Linked DNA regions of Homo sapiens. The protein of the gene in region 2 binds, or shares a complex with, the protein of the main gene of each other region. Each region holds a gene or a part of one and is shown on either strand. Other genes may lie near its edges. The genes, in order: ARPC2 and ARPC3.

Evidence for each region.
Region 1: ARPC3 (region 2) and ARPC2 share a complex: the UniProt entries of both Homo sapiens proteins name them as parts of the arp2/3 complex.

Annotation. Positions count from the first base shown.
Region 1 is NC_000002.12:218,247,567-218,256,046, reverse strand, and holds the end of ARPC2 (actin-related protein 2/3 complex subunit 2), read right to left. Parts: intron 6,684-8,480; coding exon 6,583-6,683; intron 6,227-6,582; coding exon 6,126-6,226; intron 2,157-6,125; coding exon 2,132-2,156; 3' UTR 1,699-2,131; downstream 1-1,698. UniProt on the Homo sapiens protein: Actin-binding component of the Arp2/3 complex, a multiprotein complex that mediates actin polymerization upon stimulation by nucleation-promoting factor (NPF).
Region 2 is NC_000012.12:110,433,498-110,441,332, forward strand, and holds the end of ARPC3 (actin-related protein 2/3 complex subunit 3), read right to left. Parts: intron 6,892-7,835; coding exon 6,815-6,891; intron 3,656-6,814; coding exon 3,587-3,655; intron 3,187-3,586; coding exon 3,060-3,186; intron 2,708-3,059; coding exon 2,613-2,707; intron 1,721-2,612; coding exon 1,658-1,720; 3' UTR 1,326-1,657; downstream 1-1,325. UniProt on the Homo sapiens protein: Component of the Arp2/3 complex, a multiprotein complex that mediates actin polymerization upon stimulation by nucleation-promoting factor (NPF).

The DNA.
Region 1 (8,480 bases), on a different chromosome or scaffold from region 2:
CATAGTGGCAGGTGCCTGTAGTTCCAGCTACTCCGGAGGTCAGGAGCTTGAGTACAGCCTCGGCAACACAGTGAGACCCTGTCTCTAAAAACTAAAATTAAAACAAAAAAAGAGCAAAAACTGCTTCTAGTCAAAATTACACTTGAAAACCCCTTAAATAACTCATGGGGTAGAGAATGCATATGTTGCTGTCAATATATCCAATTAATCTAGGTTTTCCAAGTACCAGAAGTAAGTGGTCAGGGGCACCCTGAGCAGCCAATTAGAAATCAGAGTACCTTGAGCTCTCTAGCAGCCCATTTTAGTGAAATAAAATCAAGTCTGATGACTGAACGACCTGTGGTTTTCAAAATTCTCCACTGTGACTCACAGTCAAGAGACATTTCTACAATCCAGTCATGATGTGCATATGTAACTAAAATACGTTTCCACATCAACACTTACCCTTAACAGATGTAATGCACTCTGATACTATTCAATTGCTTAAAAATGCTGGCGTCACACAAAGCTACACGTATGATAAAAATGCACAGATGTACATCTCATACAGTGCACGTAAATCCGGCCAAATCTGAAGGTGTGTGGACTATACTAATGATTTTTTCTTGGCTGTGATGTTATACAACAATTATACAAGATGTTAGCATGGTGGGGGAACCAAGTGGAAGGTATACAGGATCTCTCTGTATTGTTTCTTACAACCGTATTTAAATCTACAGTTATCTCAAAATCAAAAGTTTAGAAAACAAAAATGCTTGTTGTGATATAGTCACACCACAATTAATGGGTCCCAAGCCAGTATGAAACACTGCCATAGATGGAAGGCAGAAACCATTAGAATGACCATCAGACCGTTGCAGGTGCCCCTAAAATTCTCCTCTTAATTCCTTACACCAAGCAAACTTTCTGAAGCAATTTCATTTCAGGGACCAGAGTCCTGCTGGGGGACAGCTGCTCTACTAGGCTCTGTACTGTTTTTGACAACTGCTCTCCCTGAGAGCAGTCTTTTGGGCTGCCATGTGAGAAAGACAAACTGTGGCCAATTAGTCTGCATCAGACCCACACCTGAATACTCATCAATGTCCTGCAGGACCACACACTAAGGAACACATTTTGGGAAATTCCACACATTATTCACAATAAAAAGATAAACCAGAAAACCCTTTAATTTCTCTGTCATTGACCAGGGAGCTTCAGGAGCAGCCACAGAGTCTCAGGGACCAAGCTTTATAAGGAAGCATGTAAGTTTGTATTAATAGCTCGCTGGGTTCCATAGCTCATGCCTATAATCCCAGCACTTTGAGAGGCTGAAGCAAGCAAACTGCCTGAGTCCAGGAGTTTGAGACCAGCCTGGGCAAGATGGCGAAACCTCATCTCTACTAAAAATAAAAAAAATTAGCCAGGCATAGTGGTATGCGCCTGTAATCCCAGCTATTTGGGAGGCTGAGGTGGGATGATCACCCGAGCCCAGGAGGTAATGACCCTGTCTCTCAGGGGGAAAAAAAAAAAGTTTAAATATAGCTCACTGGCCAGCCATTCTCTCCTCTAGGGAAGGTGAGGATCTAAACCTGATGGGCTCCTGAAACTAGGGCTTCCCAGCTTAGGTTTGCAGGTTCAAGGGTAGTATAGGTCTATCCTTCTTCCTTCCTTCTCTTCTCACTTTGGACTCGCAGTCCAGAAACCCAGCAAATTCTCATGTAAGATAGAAAGATTTTCTTTATTAATGACCCCAACCGTATTTCTTTAGATACAGGAGTTTTGAACTCAAATACTTAGGAGAAAACAAGTTATGACTGCATTATCCTGCAACTCATTACCAGTAATATATTGCAAAGCGAAACAGCTTGGAAAAGAGGGTGGGAGAAAAGGGAAGTGAGGGAGGGAAGATAAAGAAAAGGAATTAAGTTGATCAAGTGGAATTCTTTTTTTTTTTTTTTTAATTCTTGGGAACTATGAAGTCTTTGCAAGCACAGCTCGTTTCTGCAGATTATTTTCCAAACGTGTACAAAATGGAACCAAAACGGAGAATCCCTTAAGAACCTGAAGAGGCGCAACATTAAAAGCTACGATTATCCAGTAGCAAGTGTTCCAGCCTTCAGTTGCCAGCCGCTTCCTCCTCTTATTCCCAAGATTAGCGGGATGAAAACGTCTTCCCCCTTCAAAAGGAGAGATAAGTGCGAAGGTCAGTTTCTGGCTGCCCTTTCCTCCCACCCCACACTCCTAGACTAGATGGGATCCCAAAGAAACACCAAATGAGAGGTGGAAAGGGCTAGATTCCTTAAGCAGAGGCACTGGAACCACAGGACATCGGCTAAAATCTGGCTTTCACAGAATGGTTTCACGAGCTCTTCCTTCCTATTGGATACTTTGGATGCCCGGGAATATCAGTGTTAAGCCCACAAGGACATTCAACGTACCAAGTTAGATAGAAGAATCACTTGTTCACAATTTCTGGATGGCCTAGACGTACCTGAATTTCCGACTAGGCTCAAACCGTCTTCTTAGTACTACCTCATTTGTCAGCTCCTCCTACACAGTGTATACCTCTCAGGGCTCCCAGATAGCAGTTCCTTTATCTCTCACCATGAAGGCAGGTGGCTGGTTCAGAGCAATCCTCAGAACTTCCAAGGCTAAAGGTATTTCTGCTATCACGTGGTGACTCCTCCTCTGGCTTATACAACACCTGCCTGGTTCGAGGCTCCTGAATTGTGGTGTCCTGTTCCACCCAGTATTTCTCCAGATGGGCTAGGTGGTTCTCAAGGACAGAGCCTCTAACTGGTACCTAACAGTATCTGGGAAAGCAGCCTGGAAGCTAGAGCTGAGAACTATGGGAAATCAGGGCAAAAACATGGGCTCTAGATTTTCCCTGTCTTGGATGTATCGCTTATTCCAAAATGAAGCTACACCTTATTATCCTTCTCTCCAAATGAAAAGCTCCTGAGTGTTCAATTCTGGGCGGCCCATCGAGGGTTCCTGGCTTCTGCCCACAGCTGAGTCACTTAACTCCTACCCACCATTAGTAACATAATCTGGTTTTCAGGGTGGATGCAGCTGTTTGTCTCCTGCTTCTCCTTTCTGGGGCCCAACTCTGCCAAAGAGAAGCTGCAGCACAGAAGAAGGCAAAGTTGCTCTTTCTAAGTCCCAGAGAGGAGGCTTATGAACAGTCTGTTCATTTTAAGGATTCATCCCTTCCTGGGTCTCTCACCAGGACAGGGAGCTATCCCTGCCCGCTACACAACTGCACTCACTGGGCAGGGACTCCCACGACTGCCTGCTGGCTGTGGAATCGGGCAGCAGCTGCCTAACAGGCCTTCCTCCTGGATGCACAAGCAGCTACCAGTGCCAAAGGTGATGCTGGCAGCCCTGAGACTATTATGATGCCCAGCCTTCCAGTCCGGTTATCACAGGCTGCCAGGTCAGGCTTCCCTCTCACTGTACCTGGCTGCCAGTTTACCTCTTGGCCTCTACTGAACTGCCTGTCTACTGGGCCCTGAAAGCAGCATGAAATTCACTGCCTCACACTCCAGGTCACCAAACAAGTACCCGGTGAGAAAAGTACTCCTGTGTAGAGCAAGCAGGGAAAGGGGAAAATGTAGACACCAGGATGGAGACTAGGTTCTGGAGAGGCAGCAAGCACATCCTCTCACCTGCCCACCCACCTTGTTGGTCACTTTGCCCATTTAAAGATCTGCCCAAGAAGCTGCAGAAAAGAAACGATGCTGCCATTTCATTGCATGGCATTTGGACACTCCTCTCTGAGCTGCTACAGAGACAGGCCTTTGCCTAAAGAAGTCGAGGTGACTTAAAAAGTGCTTTTTTTTTTGAGATGGAGTTTCGCTCTTGTTGCTCAGGCTGGAGTGCAATGGTGCGATCTTAGCTCACCGCAACCTCTGCCTCCCGGGTTCAACTGATTCTCCTGCCTCAGCCTCCAGAGTAGCTGGGATTACAGGCATGCACTACCATGCCTAGCTAATTCTGTATTTTTAGTAGAGATGGGGTTTCTCCATGTTGGTCAGGCTGGAGGTCTCCAACTCCTGACCTCAGGTGATCCGCCTGCCTCGGCCTCCCAAAGTGCTGGGATTACAAGCGTGAGCCACCGCACCTGGCCTTAAACTGCTTTTTGACAATGTCTGAAAACCCTCACCTACTGCTCAAGTCCTTGATCTCTTTCTCATCCTTTCAAATGACAGCAGAAACTAACTTGGTAGAAGAGCCCTCAAATGCAAGAGAGAGAGTGTAAAGCCCTAGGCGTACCACACCCACTAAAACTTTGCCTCAAGAGTACTGAGTGCTGGGCCAGGTGTGGTGGCTCATGTCTGTTATCCCAACACTTTGGGAGGCTGAGGTGGGAGGATCACTTGAGTCCAGGAGTTCGAGACCAGCCTGGACAACATGGTGAAATCCCGTCTCTACAAAAATACAAAAATTAGCCAGCTGTGATGGTGCATGCCTGTGGTCCCAGCTACTTGGGGGGCTGAGATGGGAGGATTGCTTGAGCCCAGGAGGTTGAGCCTGGCTGGGGATCACAGAGTACTGGGCTGGGCGCGGTGGCTCACTCCTTAATCCCAACACTTTGGGAAGCTGAGGTAGGTGGATCACGAGGTCAGCAGTTCAAGACCAGCCTGGCCAATATGGTGAAACCCTGTCTCTATTAAAAATACAAATAAATTAGTGGGGCTTAGTGGCGCACGCCTGTAGTCCCAGCTACTTGGGAGGCTGAGGCAAGAGAATTGCTTGAACCCAGGAGGCAGAGGTCGTAGTGAACTAAGATTGTGCCTCTGCACTCCAGCCTGTGCTTCAAGAGCGAAACTCTGTATCAAAAAACAAAAAACAAAAACAAAACAACAAAACAAAACAACAACAGTACTGGGGTGCTGGCAAATAACACTGGCTGTGAGGGAGGCTTATGACCTCAAGACTTTTAGTTCAACTGGTACAAAAGACAGCAGATGGGAGGCCGAGGTGGGTGGACTGCCTGAGCTCACGAGTTCTAGACCAGCCTGGGCAACATGGTGAAACCCCATCTCTACTAAAATACAAAAAATTAGCCGGGCGTGGTGGTGTGCACCTGCAGTCCCAGCTAGTTGGGAGGCAGAGGCTGCAGTGAGCTGAGATCGCGCCACTGCACTCCAGCCTGGGCGACAGAGTGAGACTCTGTCTCCCCCAACACCCCCACCAAAAAACAAACAAACAAACAAAAACCAGCAAATGAACACTATTACCTTATCTTAAGGACAGGACTGCCTGAATTTCATCAGAAGAACCAAGGTCTGGCACCTTTCACAAAGATGGAACTCTCTAGGCTCTAGGCCATGCTCGCCTTTCCTGCATGCAGAGCCACACCCCTATTTAGGGCTCTCCTCAAATTTTTTTTTTTTTTTTTGAGACTAAGTCTTACTCTGTCGCTCAGGCTGGAGTGCAGTGGCACAATCTTGGCTCACTGCGACCTCTGCCTCCTGGGCTCAAGCAATTCTCTGCCTCAGCCTCCCGAGTAGCCGGGACTACAGGCACCTGCCACCACGACCGGCTAATTTTTTTTGTATTTTTAGTAAAGATGGGGTTTCACCGTCTTGGCCAGGCTGGTCCTGAACTCCTGACCCTGTGATCCACCCATCTCAGCCTCCCAAAGTGCTGGGATTACAGGCGTGAGCCACAGCGCCCGTCACGGCTCTCCTCAATTCTATCCCTGATAAAGAGAACCTTCCTCTGCATGCAAACTTCCTGCTGAGAGTGGACCAGGAAAAAGAACACTTAGTGGGGTGGTTTCAGGCCTATTTACCCAATTAAAGGTCCCTAAGCAACTTACTCCATCTCTCCAGAAAGACCACCAAAAGCACAAGACTGACCTCATAACTCAGGCCCAAAAAGAACAGTCTCTTGGTAAACTTTGTTTATTTCCTAGCTGCCATTCTCATAGCTCACAAAGATACGGAAACAAGGAAACCCATCCTGGCCTATATGGCAGTGAGAACATGGAATCCCACCTTTGGTTTATCTACTTAGCCCTGCTGACCTCATATGTAGCCAGTGCCCAGATACATGGAGGACCAGGCCACCAGCGCCCACTGCTTCCTTCTCGGTGACTCAGGAGAGGAAGGTGGTCGCTGGGGTGCTGCCTAACTTACGTGATTGTTTTCATTTCTTTTTTCTCGGCATCTGGGCGTGCGCGGTTCAGCACCTTGAGGAAGTCAGACGTTTTCGCCCGCATACGTGTGTGAATATAGGCCTGGGAACAAACATAACAGGTACTAAAGCACAGTCATGGTCTAGAAAGACAGCTTTGCTGTCTTTCATCAGAGAGGTCATCAAGGGCGGTTGGGAACATACACCCTGGGATTGACCCAGGCCCTGCAGGGAAGCAGGAAGGTGAGCAATTCTGGAAACAAATATTCATCTCTGCTATAGGGAGGGATGGGGGACAGTGGCTTGATGAAGAAAGACCATGGTTTCTTGAAGCCTCTAGAATTATTTACCTAAGAGTCAATATCCACAGCGTAGACTAATGGAATGACTTTCTGTCAGGAGTTCTGGTGGAGGAAAAGACCCAGAGCATAGAGGCTGAGATGCTGGCACCCCCCTCACCTTAGAGCACTTGATGTGGTAGTGCAGGTAGTCCCGGAACGTGTGGATCAGGTTGATGGTGTTGTCTCGAGCACTGGCATTGGTGTGACGAGGGAACAGCACTGAAGGCGGAAGACACAAACAAGGCGTCAGGACACGACACAAATGCCAAAGGGTGGGGAAGAACAACAGCCTAGTGAACATCACTCCCTCTCTGCTTAAGTACACTCCACTTGTGTCAGTATTACCAGGCTTTGTCAGGGTTTTTTCTTGACATGGAAGTTAAACAGCATGGCCAGGAAAGGTGTCAACGAGCGTGAATGGAGGAGCCCACGATGAAAAACAGGGCTTGACCCTAGGCCTTCATTCTACTCCTGAATTCTGCAGCTGTGCATTTTGAAATCTATTTCCGGTCTGCCACACAGGTACTAGCTCTTGCCTCTGCAGCTGGACACACTCCAGGATCACACTAACTGGCTGTAACAGTTTACTTTAAGGAATCAGGATTAGGAAATGCAGCTGCCTGTCTTAGGTCCTTGGTGCTGAAATAGAGTAAACCTTCCCAGAAAACAGATGCCAGAGAATTTCCCATATTCTCACTGTGAAAACAGACAATAAGGTGTAAGGACCTGAACCCTCATGATAGGCCAGGCAGGAGGAGCTGCTCTGAATGGGCCTGACTGAAGTCCACCCTGTGACACCAGCCACCTAAAGACCTGTGTGAGGCTGGGCGCGATGGCTCACGCCTGTAATCCCAGCACTTTGGGAGGCTGACGCAGGCTGATCATCTGAGATCAGGAGTTTTGAGACCAGCCTGGCCAACATGGTGAAACCCCATCTCTACTAAAAATATAAAAATTAGCCACATGTGATGGCGTGTGCCTGTAATCTCAGCTACTTAGGAGGCTGAGGCAGGAGAATCGCTTAAACCCGGGGGGTGGAGGTTGCAGTGAGCCAAGACGGTGCCACTGCACTCCAGCCTGAGTGACAGAGCAAGACTCCATCTCAAAAAAAGACCTGTGTGCTCATCACAAAGTCCTTTGCACTACAGCAGGCCTGCATGCCCCTCTTGCCCTGGTTTTCTGGAATCGTTTTTACCTGCTGCACCTCCTCTACTCACTATCTGCAAAACCCCGTCAGTTGTCTGAAGTTTTCGTTGAAATGAAAAGGAATGCCTCCTAAGGAAGTGTGGAATTTCTGTGTCAATGTGCCCTGGCCTGAAAGTAAATGAACACCACAACAGAAGACAACTATACTTCAAAGAATCTAAGGTGCTTATGACTGTAAGTCTGCCATAATTTTATGTACCACAAGAGAAACATGCTGCCAATTAAAGTGTGACATGCTATGAATTGTAAGATGCATCCCAGCTTCAAAGACAAAAACTTGAAAAAAATGGTATAGCTGGCTGGGCGCAGTGGCACACGCCTGTAATCCCAGCACTTTGGGAGGCTGAAGTGAGTGGATTGCTTGAGGCCAGGAGTTGAGATCAGCCTGGCCAACATGGAAACCCTGTTTCTTTTTTTTTTTTTTAATTTTTTTTGAGACGGAGTCTTGTTCTGTCGCCCAGGCTGGAGTGCAGTCGCGTGATCTTGGCCTATTGCAAGCTCCGCCTCCCAGGTTCACGCCATTCTCCTGCCTCAGCCTTCAGGGTAGCTGGGACTACAGGCACCCACCACCACGCCCAGCTAAGTTTTTGTATTTTTTGTAGAGATGGGGTTTCACTGTGTTAGCCAGGATGGTCTCGATCTCCTGACATCGTGATCCACTTGCCTCGGCCTCCCAAAGTGCTGGGATTACAGGCGTGAGCCACCGTGCCCAGCTGGAAACCCTGTTTCTACTGAAAATACAAAAATTAGCCGGGTGTGGTGGCACACGCCTGTGGTCCCAGCTACCTGGGAAGCTGAGGCACGAGAATT
Region 2 (7,835 bases):
CCATAAACTCTAGGTTTTTTTTTTTTTTTTTGGAGATGGAGTCTCACTCTCTTGCCCAGGCTGGAGTGCAGTGGTGCAATCTCCACTCACTGCAAGCTCCGCCTCCCAGGTTCACGCCATTCCCCTTCCACAGCCTCCTGAGTAGCTGGCACTACAGGCGCTCGCCACCACGCCTGGCTAATTTTTTGTATTTTTTTAGTAGAGACGGAGGTTTCACTGTGTTAGCCAGGATGGTCTCGATTCTCCTGACCTTATGATCCGCCCGCCTTGGCCTCCCAAAGTGTTGGGATTACAGGCGTGAGCTACCGCGTCTGGCCGTTTTTTTTTTTTGAGACGAAGTTTCACTCGTTGCCCAGGCTGGAGTGTAATGGCGCGATCTCAGCCTACCGCAACCTTCGGCTCACCGTAACCTCTGCCTCCCAGGTTTAAGCGATTCTCCTGCCTCAGCCTCCCGAGTAGCTGGGATTACAGGCATGCGCCACCACGCCCAGCTGAGTTTTTTTTTTTTTTTTTTTTTTTTTTGAGATGGAGTTTCGCTCTTGTTGCCCAAGCTGGAGTGCAATGGTGCGATCTCGGCTCACTGCAACCTCTGCCTCTCAGGTTCAAGCGATTCTTCTGTGTCAGCCTCCCGAATAGCTGGGATTACGGGCGCGTGCCACCATGCCCGGCTAATTTTTGTATTTTTAGTAGAGACATTGTTTCATCATATTGGTCAGGCTGGTCTCAAACTCCTGACCTCAGGTGAGCCGCCTGCCTGGGCCTCCCAAATTGCTGGGATTACAGGCGTGAGCCATCGCACCCGGCCCGGCTGGTTTTTGTATTTTTAGTAGAGACCAGGTTTCTCCGTGTTAGTCAGGCTAGTCTCAAACTCCCGACCTCAGGTGATCTGCCCGCCTGGGCCTCCCAAAGTGCTGGGATTACAGGCGTGATCCACTGCGCCTGGCCATATTAGTATATTTTATTTCATACATATACACAGAGAGAAAAAAAAGAAAAAGAGAAAAGAAAGCACTGATATATGCTCTAACATGGATGAATTAGAAAACATTAAGTCAAAGAAGCTAGACATAAAAGGCCACATGTTGTATAAAAAATTCAATTTACATGAATTATCCAGAATAAGCAAATCCATAGAGACAGAAAGTAGATTAATACTGGGAGGAGGGGTGGGAGGGACAGGGGGCTTGGGGAGGAATGTGGGGTGGGGTGGCTGCTAAAGAGTGCAGGTTCACTACACCGGGGTGATGAAAATGCTCTGGATTTACTGGGGATGGTTGTAAAACTTCATGTATATACTAAAAAAAGTGAATTGTACACTTTAAAAGGGCATTATGGAATGTGAATTTTATCTCAAAACAAATTGTAAGTGAATGTCAAAGACTGGCAATAAAGTTTTTCTGACATGGAATGTTAGAAATTTCTTTATTATTACTTATTCTTATTAAGCGCCAGCTTTAATGCTGCAGAAAATTTCAAATCACCCTTGATAACCCACTTTCTTTTCTCCCACCCAAATTCTTGATCAAGAGTTTTTCAAGTAAAGACATGCTCTTCTCTCTTCTGTATAAAACTTTACGAAATAAAGGCAAAAGATTGTGTACATCTTGCTGGAAAATGCTGCCCAGGGCTCTGGAGACGGTGGCTGCCCGGGCTCCCTTCACTGTCCAGGTCCTGAAAGACTCTTGTTCATGAACTGTCTCTTCACAAAGCAAGTCCACCACTAACAAGAGAGAACAACACAGAATGAACAGCGGGGTCAAATTACAATAGAATTTGCATTTATTTAATAATAAAATTTCACATTAGTCTGGAATCTCTTATAAACTTTTTTTTTTTTTTTTTGAGACGGAGTCTCGCTCTGTCGCCCAGGCTGGAGTGCTGGAGTGCAGTGGTGTGATCTTGGCTCACTGCAAGCTCCGCCTCCTGGGTTCATGCCATTCTCCTGCCTTAGCCTCCCCAGTAGCTGGGACTACAGGCGCCTGCCACCACGCCTGGCTAATTTTTTGTATTTTTTAGTAGAGACGGGGTTTCACCATGTTAGCCAGGATGGTCTCAATCTCCTGACCTCATGATCCGCCTGCTTTGGCCTCCCAAAGTGCTGGGATTAGAGGCGTGAGCCACCGCGCCTGGCCATAAACCCTTTTTAGACAAAGTCTCACTCTGTCATTCAGGCTGGAGTGTAATGGCATGATCTTGGCTCACTGCAACCTCCACTTCCTGGGTTCAAGCGACTCTCTTGTCTCAGCCTCCTGAGTAGCTGAGATGACAGGTGCACACCATCATGCCTGGCTAATTTTTTGTATTTTCAGTAGAGATGGGGGTTTCACCATGTTGGCCAGGCTGGTCTCGAACTCCTGACCGCAAGTGATCCACTCGCCTCGGCCTCCCAAAGTGGTGGGATTACAGGCGTGAGCCACTGCGCCCGGCCTGCAATTCATTATTTAGTGTGATTCAGTGAACTCATATTACATACTAGACATATACTGGAAGTTAAGCAACATTGCAATGCAGAAATTAAAAATATTCTTGCAATGGAAGACCTTAGTGTGTTCAATGGTGGCTATGGGATAAAAGGTGATTTACCAATTAAGCAGGCAAGAAGAGGGTCTTACCTTGCTGGGTTTATCATTCTGAGGGTCGAAAACTTTCTCACAAAGTCTCAGTCCAGTCTCTTGCCTTAGCTGTTGTAAATAGGCTCTCATCACTTCTAAAACAGAACAATTTAAAAAAAACTGTATTTGCAAATACATCCCAAATGTACTGGTTGCAGCTCTGGATGCTCACTGTGGTAATACATTTTTATACATTTGAACAGGATACAAAATAGAAATGACAGTCCAGATAGTTTTATAACTATATTTGTTTTTGTTCAAAAGATTTTCTGCATGTCATCCTTGTTGCCAAGAATCGTTTGTGAGAGTGACTAATAAGATAATGTACTTCCTATGATTTCACTCTCAATCTGTACATGAATCAAGGCAAGAAAAAGAGGGGTGGTAGGAAGTCAAATGGAGAAAATCTTCTTGTGTCACAGAGTGAGGATAGAGACCTGTTCTTACCATCTTCCTGTTTGTTTGCAGGTTTGGCATAAATTGCGTTAAGTGGAAAACCAGGCTCTCCAGGAATGGGAAAATTAGTGATTCCCAGCGTATACATTTCTTTCTCACCTTGGCTTTTGGAATTGCACTGGAAAAAAAAATATATATATATATATACACACACACACACACACACACACACACACACACACACACACATATTTTACAGGGAAAAGAAGAATTCTATCCTTGGACCCCAGGTTAAGAACCCTTGAGTCAAGGGCTTAAAAGGAATTCCTCTGTCAAGATTTCTGTCTTGAGAAAATATATTCAAAGCCTTAAAACACCACTACTTTTATCTTTGTGTCAGTCAATTATACTACAAGTTCAGGTAACTAAATTCAAATTTTTCTCTTAAGTCCATGCTGTAAGTCAGAGGAAATATTTTCTACTTGTCTTTAAAGTCTCAACAAATCCCAGATGACTGGGAGGGTAAATGCCTCTCAGCAATTTGTTTTCCTGATATACAATCATCCAAGTTTAATTACCTTTTGCAGTTTCTTCAGACATTCAGAAATGTAGAGAGTTATATATATCAAGGTCCTATCAGCTTCATTCTACAGGGAGAAAAAGAAGACTTAAAAACAGTTATCAAAACATAACAATGATGTGCAATGTATGCATTCCATCTTTGTCTTCTGATTATCTGCTGAATGCAGTGGTAGGACAGCCACTATCACATCAAAACTCCCATTCTCCAAATGCACAGTCTCCTCAGTCTCCTTTTCCGTCTGCCCCTGGGAGGAAGGCACAAGCCCCACTCTGAGATGTGCAGCTGCTTTTTTTTTTTGAGACGGAGTCTTGCTCTGTTGCCCAGGCTGGAGTGCAGTGGCACAATCTCAGCTCACTGCAACCTCCACCTCCCAGGTTCAAGCAATTCTCCTGCCTCAGCCTCCCGAGTAGCTGGGATTACAGGTGCCCGCCACCACGCCTGGCTAATTTTTCTATTTTTAGTAGAGACGGGGTTTCACCATGTTGGCCAGGTTGGTCTCGAACTCCTGACCTCAAGTGATCTGTCCACCTCAGCCTCCCAAAGTGCTGGGATTACAGGCATGAGCCACCACGCTCGGCTGAGTGGCTGCTCTCTCTTGTTTTTCTCGGCTCCCCTTGCCCCAGGGTTCCCAAGGATCTGTGTCAACAGCCCCTCACTGTATAGGAAGAAGTAACAAAGCTGCCTGGAAAGCCTGAACTGCTCCATATGGTTGGCTAATTTTTAAAAACCCTTCCCTTCAGGGTCTCTGCCGAGAACAGAAATAGTCATTACTCTAAAGGAGGAAGCAACTATTTCACATTTGACTTGCTCCCAAAGAACTCCATAATCTCAATGTCTTGACCTAACCAAAAAGAAAATGTGGAGAAGACAAATGAATGTTGATCAAATGTGGTATGGACTTTGGGTCAAATTTTACACAAATTTAGGCCAGGTGCAGTGGCTTATGCCTGTAATCCCAGCACTTTGGGAGGTTGAGGTGGGTGGATTGCTTGAGCCCAGGAGTTTGAGACCAGCCTGGGCAACATGGCGAAACACCGTCTCTACTAAAAATACAAAAATTAGCCAGTCATGGTGGCGTGCGCCTGTAATCCCAGCTGCTAGGGAGGCTAAGGCCACAGAATCGCTTGAAGCCAGGAGGCAGAGGTTGTAATGAGTCAAGACTGTACCACTGCACTGCAGCCTGGGCAACAGAGCAAGACTCTGTCTCGAATTAAAAAAAAAAAAAAAAAGGCCGGGTGCGGTGGCCCACACCTGTAATCCCAACACTTTGGAAGTCCAAGGTGGGTGTATCACGAGCTCAGGAGATCGAGACCATCCTGGCCAACGTGGTGAAACCCTGTCCCTACCAAAAAATACAAAAATTAGCTTGGCGTGGTGGCGCGTGCCTGTAATCCCAGCTACTTGGGAGGCTGAGGCAGGAGAACCACTTGAACCCGGGAGTCGAGGGTTGCACTGAGCCGAGATCACGCCATTGCACTCCAGCCTGGTGACAGAGCGGGACTCTGTCTCAAAACAAAAAAACAACAAAAAAATTACCCCCAAACCACACCATTTTCCTATATATTTTTTTTTTTTTGAGTGTTTCACTTTTGCTGCCCAGGCTGGAGTGCAATGGCGTGATATTGGCTCACCGCAACCTCTGCCTCCTGGGTTCAAGTGATTCTCCTGCCTCAGCCTCCCAAGTAGCTGGGATTACAGGCACGCACCACCACGCCCAGTTAATTTTGTATTTTTAGTAGAGACGGGGTTTCCCCATGTTGGTCAGGCTGGTCTCAAGCTCCCGACCTCAGGTGATCCGCCCGCCTTGGCCTCCCAAATTACGGGCAGAGGCACTGCGCCCAGCCACATTTCCCTATTTTTAAGACAATATAGTATCTGGGAACAAATGAAATGTGGCAGAGTTTTTTGTTTTTTTTTTGAGACAGTCTTGCTCTGTCGCCCAGGCTGGGTGCAGTGGTGTGATCTCGGCTCACTGCAACCATCACCTCCTGGGTTCAAGCAATTCTTGTGCTTCAGCCTCCCGAGTAGCTGGGATTACAGGCATGCACTACTACACCTGGCTAATTTTTGTATTTTTGGTAGAGATGGGGTTTCGCTTTGTTGGCCAGGCTGGTCTCAAACTCCTGGCATCATGTGATCCACCCGCCTCAGCCTCCCAAGTGTTGGGATTACAGGCGTGAGCCACCATGCACTAATTTTTCTATTTTTTGTAGAGACGGGGGTTCGCCATGTTGCCCAGGCTGGTCTCGAACTCCTGAACTCAAGCAATGTGCCCAGAGAATTGTAACATTTATAACTGTTACAAACTTAACCCACACATGAGATATAGAAAACATTCTATTACCATCACAGAATGTTTAGACTACAATTTGTACACCAAGAGTCTACAAATAAATAATTCACAACCTGTTTGATTCCAGAAGTTCAGAGTTTGGCAAGGAGGGGCTGAAATTCCATTTTAGGGCCGGGAGCGGTGGCTCACGCCTGTAATCCCAGCACACTGAGAGGCTGAGGTGAGCGGATCATGAGGTCAGGAGATCGAGACACCATCCTGCCTAACATTGTGAAACCCCGTCTCTACTAAAAATACAAAAAATTAGCCAGGTGTGGTGGTGCATGCCTGTAGTTCCAGCTACCTGGGAGGCTGAGGCAGGAGGACTGTCTGAGCCCAGGAGGTTGACGGTATAGTGAGCTGTGATTGTGCCACTGCACTCTAGCCTGGGCGACGGAGCAAGACCCTGTCTCAAAACAAAACAAAAGGCTGGCACATAGTAGGTGCTGCTTAACTAATGTTGAATAAATAAAGATACTTCTAGCAAGGGGTTGGCAAACTTTCTCTGTAAAAGGCAGGCAGTATTTTTAGGTTTTGTGGGCCATACAGTCTTTGTCACAACTACTCAATTCTGCTGTTTTGGTGTGAAAGTAACTATAGATAATATAGAAACAAATGGTTGTGGCTGTGTTCCAATAAAGGTTTATTCATAAAAAGGGGCAGTGGGCCAAATGTGGCCCTCAGGTTAGAGTTTGCCAACCCCTGGTATAGAATTTGGAGGAAAAAAAAAGAAACTAATATTTATACAAAAGCTAACATTAAGCACTGCTCTCGAATTTAAAAATTACATGCTGATTTCATTTTATTTTCTCCTCACAGCAATCTGGATAGCAAGGTTGGTATTATCCCTATGAGAAAACTAAGTTAAATATTAAAAGCTCCGTAATTTACCTTAATTTCATAGTTTTTGAAGAAGACATTGGCCTTGAAGTAATAGATGGCTTCATCCACAATATCTGTATCTTTTGCTAAGCAGGACACAAGGGAAGGAGCACAGAGAACATTAGCCAAATACAAAACATAACAACTATCAAAGCCATAAAGGGAAAACACATACAACTGTCAACAGTTGTGGAGTTGAATAAAATAAAATGATCCTATTGAAATACAAAGTTTTTAGAAAATATTTATTTGTTTTTTTTTTGAGACAGAGTCTCGCTCTGTCACCCAGGCTGGAGTGCAGTGGCGTGATCTTGGCTCACTGCAAGCTCTGCCTCCCGGGTTCACGCCATTCTCCTGCCTCAGCCTCCTGAGTAGCTGGGGCTACAGGCACCTGCCACCACACCCCGCTAATTTTTTGTATTTTTAGTAGAGATGGGGTTTCACCATGTTAGCCAGGATGGTCTTGATCTCCTGACCGCGTGATCCGCCCATCTCGGCCTCCCAAAGTGCTGGGATTACAGGCATGAGCCACCGTGCCCAGCCTTTGTTTTTTTTTTTGAGACAGAGTTTCACTCTGTCGCCCAGGCTGGAGTGCAGTGGCGCGATCTTGGCTCACTGCAAGCTCCGCCTCCCGGGTTCACGGCATTCTCCTGCCTCAGCCTCCCAAGTAGCTGGGGCTATAGGCACCTGCCACCATGCTCAGCTATATTTTTTGTATTTTTAGTAAAGACGGGGTTTCACCGTGTTAGCCAGGATGGTCTTGATCTCCTGACCTCGTGATCCGCCCATCTCGGCCTCCCAACGTGCTGGGATCACAGGCATAAGCCACCGTGCCCGGCCAAATTTTTTTTTTTTGAGACGGAGTCTTGCTCCGTCGCCCAGACTGGAGTGAAATGGCATGATCTCGGCTCACTCTGCCTCCCGGGTTCAAGCGATTCTCCTGCCTCAGCCTCCCAAGTAGCTGGGATTATACGCATGTACCACCAGGCCTGGCTAATTTTTGTATTTTTAGTAGAAATGGGGTTTCACC